Regions from separate parts of the Homo sapiens genome. Here regions 1, 2 and 3 are each linked to region 4. Evidence: fine-mapped expression QTL. A gene starts in region 4. Each other region holds a variant in brackets. All regions are shown on one strand. Distances are from middle to middle.

Evidence for each region. PIP is the estimated chance that this variant, and not a neighbour inherited with it, causes the effect.
Region 1: its variant is the best candidate, but not a certain one, in a credible set for the expression of DEGS2 in whole blood (INTERVAL, PIP 0.56).
Region 2: its variant is the best candidate, but not a certain one, in a credible set for the expression of DEGS2 in sun-exposed skin (GTEx, PIP 0.59).
Region 3: its variant is the best candidate, but not a certain one, in a credible set for the expression of DEGS2 in lung (TOPMed, PIP 0.73).

What each region holds. Positions count from the first base shown.
Region 1 is chr14:100,037,612-100,040,291 of GRCh38, reverse strand. It overlaps LOC124903379 (a long non-coding RNA gene), which reads left to right. Exons shown (of 2, transcript XR_007064329.1): 2 at 1-2,680. It also overlaps a transcript of EVL not described here. Among named protein-coding and RNA genes, the nearest start is that of EVL, 26 kb to the left of the region's middle. The variant A/G (reference allele first, on the strand shown) is at 1,410.
Region 2 is chr14:100,125,561-100,128,240 of GRCh38, reverse strand. It overlaps EVL (Enah/Vasp-like), which reads right to left. Exons shown (of 14, transcript NM_016337.3): 5 at 1,470-1,534. Among named protein-coding and RNA genes, the nearest start is that of MIR342, 17 kb to the right of the region's middle. The variant C/T (reference allele first, on the strand shown) is at 1,619.
Region 3 is chr14:100,137,140-100,139,819 of GRCh38, reverse strand. It overlaps EVL (Enah/Vasp-like), which reads right to left. Exons shown (of 14, transcript NM_016337.3): 10 at 2,176-2,242; 11 at 2,018-2,080. Among named protein-coding and RNA genes, the nearest start is that of DEGS2, 21 kb to the left of the region's middle. RefSeq lists enhancers at 56-760, 1,283-1,432, 761-1,466. The variant C/T (reference allele first, on the strand shown) is at 1,181.
Region 4 is chr14:100,158,531-100,161,210 of GRCh38, reverse strand. It overlaps DEGS2 (delta 4-desaturase, sphingolipid 2), which reads left to right and starts at 1,566. Exons shown (of 3, transcript NM_206918.3): 1 at 1,566-1,705. The coding sequence starts at 1,624. LOC124903380 (a long non-coding RNA gene) reads right to left here and starts at 1,174. Exons shown (of 2, transcript XR_007064330.1): 1 at 1,080-1,174. RefSeq lists silencers at 1,220-1,619, 1,720-1,779.

The DNA of each region.
Region 1 (2,680 bases), 120 kb after region 4:
TTCACAAGAGAAAAAATACAGTAATGTTAAAAATGCATAAAGAAAGGAGGAGAGAGAAAAAAGCGGAACAAAAGGAGCTGGTAAAAATCTGTAGTAAGGGCAGCAAAGTGCTAGTAACAGGATCACTGTGCATTGAGCCGTTTGCTAAGGCTGTCCAAGTGCCACAAGCAAACACAAAGGGACAGAAGCCACAAAGATCAACAGCTCATGGGGGCTGGGCACAGTGGCTCATGCCTGTAGGCCCAGCACTTTGAGAAGTCAAGGCAGGAGGATCCCTTGAGCCCGGGAGTTTGAGATCAGCCTGGGCAACACAGCAAGACTCCATCTCTGCAAAAAAGTTAAAAAATTAGCCCAGTGTGGTGGTGTGCACTTGTGGTCCCAGCCTCTCAGGAGGCTGAGGTGAGAGGATCACTTGAACCCAGGAGGTCGTGACACCCATGATCGCGTCACTGCATTCCAACCTCGGTAACAGAGCGAGACCCTGTCTCTATTAAAAACAAAAAGCAGCTCATGGGGTCAGCCACACCACCCAGACACACAAGCCAGAGAGAACAGAGTGGGTGAAGATATAGACCAATTCCAGGCTAGGAAACTACTTACCATCCCCTACTGTACAGAGAACTTCACTGTTGTTGTTTATTTAGAAATTTCTTAAATGTGGTTTATTCAACACTTCAGTAACTCTAGTTATTTTACCCATATTATGTGTCCAAATTATTCATGTGACTTAAAGTTTTGCTTTAAAAGCTTCTAACAACTGGGTGCAGTGGCTCACGCCTGTAATCCCAGCACTTTGGGAGGCTGAGGTGGGTGGATCACTTGAGATCAGGACTTTGAGACCAGCCTGACCGACATGGCAAAACCCTGTCTCTACCAAAAATACAAAAATTAGCCAGGTGTGGTGGTGCATGCTTGTAATCCCAGCTACTTGGGAGGCTGAGGCAGGAGAATCACTTGAATCTGGGAGGCGGAAGTTGCAGTGAGCCAAAATTGTGCCACTGCACTCCAGCATGGGGAACAAGAGTGCAACTCCGTCTCAAATAAATAAATAAATGGCCTCTAACAAGGATTGTTTTAACTAGAAAATAACTGAACTTCATAAAGTGAGAAAAGCTGAAATCATGGGGTATTCATATGAGGAATCCTATTTTTAAAATATTTGTCTCCCACAGGGTCTCTGTCCCCAAGGTTTAACTTTGAAAAGCTCAAATGTTCTTACCTGTCCTTTTTCCCTTCAGTTCTTATACTTATTTGGTGACTTGGTTAATGACTCTATTTTCTGAAATCTGAGAAGCCAGTCCTGGGCCCTATGGGTCATGGCTGCAGAAGGAAACACAGTCCCCACTCTTGAGGAATTCATCTGCTTTTGGGAGAGGCAGGATATATTCAAGAGAACTAAAAAAGTTGGA[A/G]AAGTAACCAATAACCCAAACTGTATCCCTAGTTTCTGATCTTTGTGAGTACAAAGTTATATTCTTTCTTTACAGCAACACACACACACACACACACACACACACACACACCCCAGGGCACAGCACACAGGGTACTAAGTGGTACCTAAGACCATCTCTGACAGCTACCCACCCAAGCTGTGGCCTCTGCCAAGAGTTGAGGGATATCAGTGAAGTTCTAGCATTATTCTGTTTAAGCTTTTTATTATGAGCAGTTAATAATTTTTCAATTAATAAAACTAGCTTATTAAAAATAAAGAAGTTTAATGGCACAAAGGGACAAGTGAAATGCAAATGGGACCCAGACTTGTTCCGCTTGTTAAGACAGTATCCTGATTTGGGACTAAGAGCCCTGGCTGTCCAGACCACGTGGGCTTCAAAACCGAGAGGAGGCAGTGGTGGGCAACCTTGTCCGCCATCTGAGTCCATCGCTTCTGCTCTTTGATATGGCAAGTCAGAATTAAATATTCTGAAGGCCCAACAGAGCTGGGAAGTTTGTCCAGACAAGAGCATGATAAGATCAGTTTGTTTAAAACCTGCTGTGGATTTATTTGCTTTGTCCATGCTTAGCAATTCTGTCCACTTGCCACAACTTCTTCAGATTTTAATTTCCTTCTTTTCCTCTTAATTCTATAGACATGGCCAACGTGGTGCTTTATTAAATCTACAGAGCTGGTTGCCAGGCACTTCCTTCTGCTGCCTGCAGCTCTCCGTCTACAGTATCCTACCCAGGATGATTTCAGCTTTCCTTAGTCTACACTTTCCCCTCACTGAAAAGCAGCAGAATGGGAATCCACAGAGCTAGTTCCAGTCCTGTTGCTAACTAACCTGGTGATCACAACCAAGCTCTGACCCTGTCTAGGTGTGTTTCCTCCTCTGTAATTTCTAACTTGCTGAAAGTGGTGTTAATGAAATGACATATTGTTAATACAGTTCTCGGCCCTCAATAGTTGAATAAATAAATGGAAGCTATCCCATTTGTATCCCTAATGTCTAGCTCTGAATGAATGAAAGAAAATAACTATATATTGCCTGGGACATAGTGGCTGTTTCGGAAATATTACTTCTCTTTCCCTTACCCACTGGAAATACCTCAAGGGAACTGGCCATGTCTGCTCTGGGGAAGCGAAAGGTAAATACCATGTCCAAAAGAGGGACTCACAGAGATCTGAACAAGGGGATACCTAAGGAACTTTTTTGGTTCTAATATTCTATATTTTATTTGTACATTT
Region 2 (2,680 bases), 33 kb after region 4:
CTTGCTCCAATCATGTTTTTCCAGGGGGAGAGGAAGCTGTCTGGTTACAGTCTGTGCCTCTTCTCTTCTCTGCTCCTTCTAAGCACCTAGCACCCCCTAGGCAGAAGTTGGTCACCAAGATCCAACTGTGACTGACACTTGGGTCGTTGGGGGCCGTGGCAGGTCCTGTGGGTCCCAGGGCCGACTGGGGGCATGGGTCAGGGCGCAATGCCGAGTGCTGGGCTCCAGCATCATCCATCCAGCCCCTTCCGCCAGTGCTGCCTAAGCCTGTTTTGTGCCAGGCACTGTGCTAGGTGCTGGGTATGGTGCTGAGGAAAACCAGCCACAAGCTCTCTGCTCAGGGTGCTCACAGCCTATGAGGAACAGTCAACGAATCGCAGAGGTAAACGCAGATGGAGGACTGTGGCAAGCTGACAAGTGTTACCAAGGGCAGGCACACGGCGCCATGTTGGCATACAAAGAGGGGCTCCAGCCTGGCCAGAAGTTCATGGAAGACGGACGTCCTCCATGACGTCCTCACGGAAGTGACTGTGGAGCTGGGACACGACCGGAGAGCAGGGGTTCAGTTAGGTGAAGGGGGGAGGCAAGTGTGAGGAAGGAGGAAAAGGATGGGAAGTGCTTGCGAGGCACTAGAGGGAGAGAGGGCAGGCACAGGCTGTTCCAAGAGTGATGGGGAAGGGACGACATGATGACAGTGTCAGACCTGCATCAGAAATGCAGACTGGCCGGGGAGCAGGAGGCCAGCAGCAGCTAGGTGGGGGTGATGGGGTCAGCCAGCATCTCACGAGCAGAGCGTTCCTGTAACCAGTGGGGGCTCGGGTTTCTCATCAGTCAACAGGATAATAGTCACCTGCTCACTTCATAGGGTGTTTGAGAAAATTAAACAAGACAAAGGACATGAAAGCACTTGGTAAATTATCCAGTCCTTTGCCTATCAGTGAACATGACAATTTCTGGAAAACCCTCGTCCTTCTCCTTTAACGTGCTAAGCTCCACCGAACGTCCAAGACAGACGCGTGGCAGCGCCTCCTGTGGGAAGTCTTCCTGACCCAAGGTAGGCCTTCAGCACCTGCACGTCACTTGCCACAGTGTTCACTACGTGACATGACAAGGGTGGGTTCACTGTCTCCTTGAGTGGACAGCGGGCTTCCTGAGGGCAGGAACTGCATCTGCAGTCATAGTTGTGTCCCCAGCCCTTAGCACGGTGCCTGAGACACAGGAGGTGCTTGCTGAATGTCCACTCCGGAGAAGGTTGGCAGGTAGTGGCCAGACCCAGCTGAGCAGACTCCCCAAGCCTCTGCTCTGCTCTCTTGCTACCCTCACCATCTGAAGTGGTGGTTGCACTTTGAGACCTAGGCTCCCCATAGCTGCTCACAGAGCGCCCCGTGTGTCCCTGGGCCTCATCTACGTGGAGGGGCTGCCACCTGGCAGCAGCATGGGAGTCGGCCCTAGGGGAGGAGGGCTCTCACCTGTGGCCGAGGTTCTTCTTTCTAGAGATTCCTGACGCTGCTGCTGGTGCTGCTCCATCACTTGTCTGGAAAGTAATCACAGCAGGGCAGTCTGACTCCTCCACTCTGGAGACCACCACACTCTGTGCCTGTGCTGTACCCGCCGGCCC[C/T]GGCTTCAGAGTCAGGTTTCGCCAGCGCTCCACAAGCGCCACTGTGTGCCACGGCTGCCTCCACTTAACAGAGGAGGGGGATGTGACTGGGTCCAGCTCCCGCAAGTGGGAGCACCGGCTGTCTCCTGAGTCTCAGGCACACTGAACACAGAGCTCCTTATGGAAGGCCAGTGTGATTCCACTCCCCAGAGTGACCAAGCTCTTCCCTGGGCTAGATGGGCGCACCTGGCTTTTGGGAGCCTGTGGCCTCAACAGACCCAGCCTCAGGAACGCCTGTTCTTAGTGGACCTGGCCAAGCTTCCTGGGACAGTTCTCAGGTGTGTTTTGGTTGCCAGCAGAAATGGACACAAAGGCCACACTCCTCATTTTCTTTACCACTGAGCGGTCATAGGCCCGCCTTCGTCTAGAGGGCCATTTGGTGCACCGTGGCACACTGCTACGTGCACAGCAGTGGGAACTCACATCCCAGTGCCTTATGGCAGGGTGGCCTCAGGGTGCTCTTAAAGGCAAGCTGAGTGAGGACACTGAGGCCCAGATACATCTCCAGAATCCAGGGATCGAGTTCTGGAGTGGGAGGCACTTTAAGAAATCATCCAGGCCACAGACAGCATCAAGAGCTCAGCTCGTGTGGTGCAAACTGAACATGTGCTGTGGAAACACAGGGCTAAGGATTGTTCTGAAGGCAGCTCTGGGCTTGGTGGGAGTGCCAGAAACATCTATTTCATGGGGTTCTTGTAGGGTGTATGCCTTAACTAAAACATTATGGAATGGCTGGGCGTGGTGGCTCACGCCTGTAATCACAGCACTTTGGGAGGGTGAGGCGGGCGGATGACGAGGCCAGGAGTTTGAGACCAGCCTGACCAACATGGTGAAACCCCATCTCTACTAAAAATACAAAAATGAGCTGGGTGTGGTGGCGCGCGCCTGTAATCCCAGCTACTCAAGGGGCTGAGGCAGAAGAATCTCTTGAACCCAGGAAGTGGAGGTTGCAGTTAGCCAAGATTGCGTCACTACACTCCAGCCCGGGTGACAGAGCAAGACTCCATCTCAAAAAAAAAAAAA
Region 3 (2,680 bases), 21 kb after region 4:
AAGGTTTCAGGGAAACGTATGTGGCCTGTGCCCCTGGGTGTGATCATGGGCACACACATTTATCTGGCAGGGCCAGCCTTGGCTGCTGAGGGGTCATGGGCACAGAGGAGGACCATCTGGTGACACTGAGGACCAGTGTTGCCCACAGCCAGGGAGAATAAGGATGAAGAATGAGTGTTGCCACACCCCTCCAGATGAGCTCAAGAAAGAGGCCAAGCCTAGCCCTAAACAGGTCTGTAAGTAATTCTGGGTCCTGATAGGCAAACGCATCCAGCCAGAGGGCCCTGGGTCCTTCAGGCCTCTCCTGTGGGTTCCAGACCCTGTTCCAGCAACAATTGCTGGGACACCTGGGCCGACTGCTCCACCTCGCCAGGCCCTGGCCCTCTCCATCTCAGCCCTGACAGCCACCCAGTGATAAACACAGCAGGCTTCCTAAGCAATGTGACGCACCAGAGGGGTGGTGGTACACGTTCCCCTTGAAGTCATCTGAAAATTAGAGAACAGATTTGCCTCAGAGCTGAAGAGAGACCCTATTCCAAGCATGAATGGCCTTGACAATGTTCCTGCCCAGTGAGCGACCCTTGGCCACTCACAACATGGCAGCCCGCCTTTGCTCCACCAGCAGGACGTGGCGGAGTCCGCTGGGAGCGCTGCAGGCTCCCCTTGCTGCCGTGTCTGCTCCAGGGCCCTCGTTTTGCCCACTCTGGTTGCCTTCCCCTTCCCAGCCTCCACCATGGCACCCTGTGCCTCAAGTTCCATGACTGGGCCCTGCGCATGAACACAATGCAAACTTCTAACTCCGCGCTCCCCCACACCCTCTTCCTCACCCTTCCCGTTCCCCTGCCCCATGGCCTGTCTGCTTCCAGGTGGAGGTGCGGGGGAGCTTGGCGGGTGGCTGCAGGCTCAGGGCCCTGGCACTTACCCTTCCTTCAGCTTGGGAGGCTGTCCCCATGATCTCCGCAGAGCAGACTCCTCCTCGTCCGGGTCAACGAAAATGCCAGCTCCCGACAGAGGCTTGCCCCACCCCACTCCGCAAAGCACCCTGTCCCTTCCACCATGTGGCCCTGCACCCTGTCCAGAGCACCCCTCAGGACCACAGTGGCCTTGTTCACACGGTGCTCTTTGCAGGCAGGGACTGTCCCCAGCACACGGCCTGGCTGACCACAAGCCTTGGACAAAC[C/T]CCAGCTGACTGCTAAGACTTCCTCATCTCTGTCCACCTGCACTGCTCTGCTCTCACCACCTGTTCAGCTCTGCAAGGCCAGTTTCAATGCCTCCTGCTCTGTGATAAGGGTGGTTTCCCTTCAATTTGTGGTGGCGATGGAGACATTCTTGACGCAGGTTCTAGAGGCCTTCCAATTCAGGCCACATGTACCTCCAGATACTATGTGGCTGGCTGCCTCTGCCTTTTTGGGCAATCTCAGTTCCAAATATTCTATCATGTTGTCATGCCAGCTTTTGGCTTGGGAAATATGGTCAGTATGTCTGTGGGGAAACTGATTCTGTGTGCCGGCCGCAGAGGAAGGACTCTGGGCTGGAGGAAAGGGGTAGGGCTCAGCGCCAGTGCTAGGACTGGTTGAACTGTAGGGTGCAGCCCTGGCTAGTGACCACACCCCATGTCCAGCTGTTGCTCACAGCTGTCCCCACCACCACCCTGTGCAGCAGGGGTTAACAGACCTCACTTTGTGGGGGGAAAACAGAGGCTTGGAGAGGTCCCCTAACTTGCCCACTGTCACACGTAGTGAGTCCAGAGCTGGGACTCCATGTTGGCCCCCCCCTGCACTACCTCTGTGGACAGGTCACTGCCCTCCTTGCCCTTGGTCTCTCTCTCAGAGGGAAAAGACGGAGCAGCTGACTGACAGGACCCCGAGGTCCTGGGTCTGAAAGAACAGACCACCTTCGCAGAGCAAGTTGTTAAATGCCAGGACGTGAGACAGCGTGCAAGGGTGTTAGTCACGGGACGGGGGACAGAGGAGCCCCAAACCCTGGGGGACATGTGAGCAGGAGGGTTGTTCGGTACCTAGAGTGAGGCTGCGACTGAAGGGGGCTCTTAGCTTCGGGGCTCTTTGCCACAGACGGGGTTCTACGGCAATGGAATGAAACAGACATGTGAATCGGCGCCAGCGCCCGCCTCTGCCCCACCAGCCTCGCTGCTCAGGCCTTCCTGGGGCAGCTCACCTGGACAGAATCGAGGACACAGGCTTCTCCACCGAGTTGCTCCGCTCCCAGGGCTTCCGGCCAGCCTCTGTCAGTTCATTTCATGGATGAAGAACCTCACAGGTGAAGGGACTCAGTAGCCACCCCAATCCCCTAAACACCCCAACAGGAAGCCCTCACCCATGCCAAGGGTGCAGAGCCCCGTGGCAGGAAGGTCTGATTGAGTTAAGCCAAAACCTGGCACCTTGTTCTCAGTCCCCCATGGCCTAGGTCAGGTTGACCCTGACCTGTGATCTGGTTCTGAGCCCTTCACTGTGCCAGGTCTCTCTGGAATGTGAGCCTGCTGGTAAGGGACCCAGTGACTAGAGCCACAGGGCGAGCAAGCACGACCTCCCCGGACATCCCAGCACAGCCTTGCTCCCACGTGTGGTGTGGCGGCCAGGCCCCTCGGCCCGGCACCTGCTACTGAGGGGCTCCTTAGTCTGCCTCCCATGCTGCGCCTGGCTCTGTCCCATTCTGGCTGGCT
Region 4 (2,680 bases):
GGCTCAGGGCGGCAGATCTCACGGAGTTCAACACAGGGGCGAAGGCTCTGATTTTGGAAGCTTTTTAATTCAAAGGTCAGGGGCCAAAGTCATGCCCCAGCCTTGCTGTTAATTCCTCTGTGCCTCAGGCAAGGCGCTCCTCATCTCTGGGCCTCAGTCTCCTGATCTGTAAAGTGATGGCTGGTGGGATGACTTCTGAGGACCCTTCTGGCTGGGAACAGAGCAGGCTGCCCTGGGAGCAATGAGTCTTCTCCCAAGGGTGCAAGCTGGGCCGGGAGGCCTCCTGGGTGTGGCAAGGGGTGATGGCCATGGTGGCATGTGGGTCCCCCTGCTGATGGAAAATCTGGCCTCTGTGTCCACCTTTCCCATGGCTAATTCAGGGGATGGTGGCTGGCGGCTGCAGGACACCCATGCCTTCCTTCCTGGCTCACTCAGGACTGCCTTTGGCCCTGAGCTAAGGAAGGCCTGCCAAGTGTACCAAACCCCGGGCCATGGACTTCCATGGGACGCACAGAAGCACGCCCTCACTATGTGCGAGCCTGTGGCAGCGCTGGCTGATGTGTCAGTCAGCTCCCAGGCAACTGCCAGCCGAGGCCAGGCTCTGGCCCACAGGCACAGCAGGTCCACCCTCCAAAACTCCAAGGGAGTGGGAGAAGGAACAGAGGCATCACTGAGAGGGTGAAGATGAGGGGCCCTGTGCCCTTACCTCCCCAAAACTAGACTTTCCATTTGAGAACATTCAGGTTCTGCCTTGTTTCCAAGCGTTTGCATCTGCTGTTCCCCCTAGCACCAATGCCTTTCCCTTTTCTAGCTGTTGAACTCCTACCCACCCCTCAAGGCCCAATGCAAAAGTTCCTTCTATTGGATCCTAGCTGCTTCAGGGCCTACCTGTGTCATGGCACGTATCACCCTGAATCATAACAGCCACTTCTGTACCTGTGTCCCCATCCAGAACTCAAGTTCCCTGAAGGCAGGAGTGGGTCTGACTCATCCCTGTGAGGTTGCTGCAGACGCATTATCTCCCCTTTGCATTATTGGTGAAAGGGCCGGGTGGAGGAAGGGAGGATTGCTGCACCAACCTTTCCTCGGCGCCTGTTTACTGGCACCGTCGCATCCATTCCACGCCGATCCTCCGCAGTCCCCCTATCCTGCCAGCCGCTCCTCCTTGGGGCAGGGGCGGCGCGAGCCACAGGGGCGTGCCCGCGAGCGGGTCGGGGCTGCGGAGAGAACGGGCCGGGGTAAAAACCCGACGGCTGCCCGCGGGTGGGCGGGGCGCGCAGAGCCGGTGGGAGGCCGCGGTGGCAGCAGTCGCCCCCGCGCATCGAGGGACCCAGGGACTCGCGCAGATGGCACGCGGCCACCTCGGTCCTGCCGGGGAGCCCCATTTCCAACCGAGGCAACTGAGGTTCCCAAAGCGCCAGCTACCCGCCGGGGTCTGGAGAGCGCCGGGGCCCGGCCGCCCCGCCCAGCCAGAGGTGCCCCGCCCCAAGCCTGGCGCACCTGGCCCCGCCCCGCCGGGACCCCGCCCCCGCCCTAATCAGAGCTGGTTCCGCGCCGCGGCCGCCGCGACAGGTGCAGCAGAGCCGAGCCGGCCGCGCTCCGAACGGCGCCTCCCGCCCCACCATGGGCAACAGCGCGAGCCGCAGCGACTTCGAGTGGGTCTACACCGACCAGCCGCACACGCAGCGGCGCAAGGAGATACTGGGTGAGCGCCGCGCGGGGCCCACCCCGGTGGGGACCGCCCCGTTGGCCCGTCTGGAGTCGCGTCGTGGGGTCGAGCCCAGACGGGCCGCTCCAGCTCTGGCCCAAATTCCAGTGGGCGTTCCGCCATTGCCGCTCCCCTCCCTGGGGTCCCCGGCCGGCTCCCCGAGGGTCCCCCACCCTGGCCGGGTCTGAAACTCCCTGGGACCTGAGGATTCCGAGGACCCCAGTACGGGTCCGAGCGCCAGGGAGCGCGTCCCAGCTGTTCCTCGCGAGCCACTCCCGGGGCCAGGGCCGGGGCTCTGGGATGCTGGGACGCGAGGGCGCAGGGGCGGCCCCGGGACGCGCTACGAGGCGCACGCGCTCCCTGGCGCGGAGGCAGCTTGCGCGACGCGGGGCCTCCACCCGCAGTCACTGGGCGCCTGCTGCGCTCAGAGCCCCTGGGTCTCGCGGCCACGGGCGCCCCAGGCTGGAGTTCAGGGCGGATGAGCGCCGGGAAGGGAGCAAACGCGAATGAGAGGCGCGCGTGTTTTCTTTGAAAAAAGCAAAGATTGTACTAAAGAATCCTTCTATTCTGGCATGTCGCTTATTACGTGGTGGCTGTTTTCCTTGTTGCTTCGTGTCCTCTGCGAGGAGGGCATCTTTACCCACTCGGAGTCACTCTCGTTCATGCCAGAGGCCCCATCCCACCCACAAGCAAGGTGGCCCCGGTGAGTCGTCCTTGGCCCGGGCTTACGGGGTTAAAGGGCCTGCGTCTGGAGAGTGGCTTTTGCCAGATGCCACCAAATCGCCACAGGCTGAGACAGGCCCGCCCCTCCCGCCCTGCCTAAGTCAGCACCGCGCGTTGCCACACTTTGTAATCTTCAGTCAGATTGGGGAAACAATACCATTTCACTGTGGCTTTAATTTGCACTTATTTGATGGAGGTTTCACATTTTAATCGGGCGTTTTATTTAATTTAATTAATTTATTTATTTAG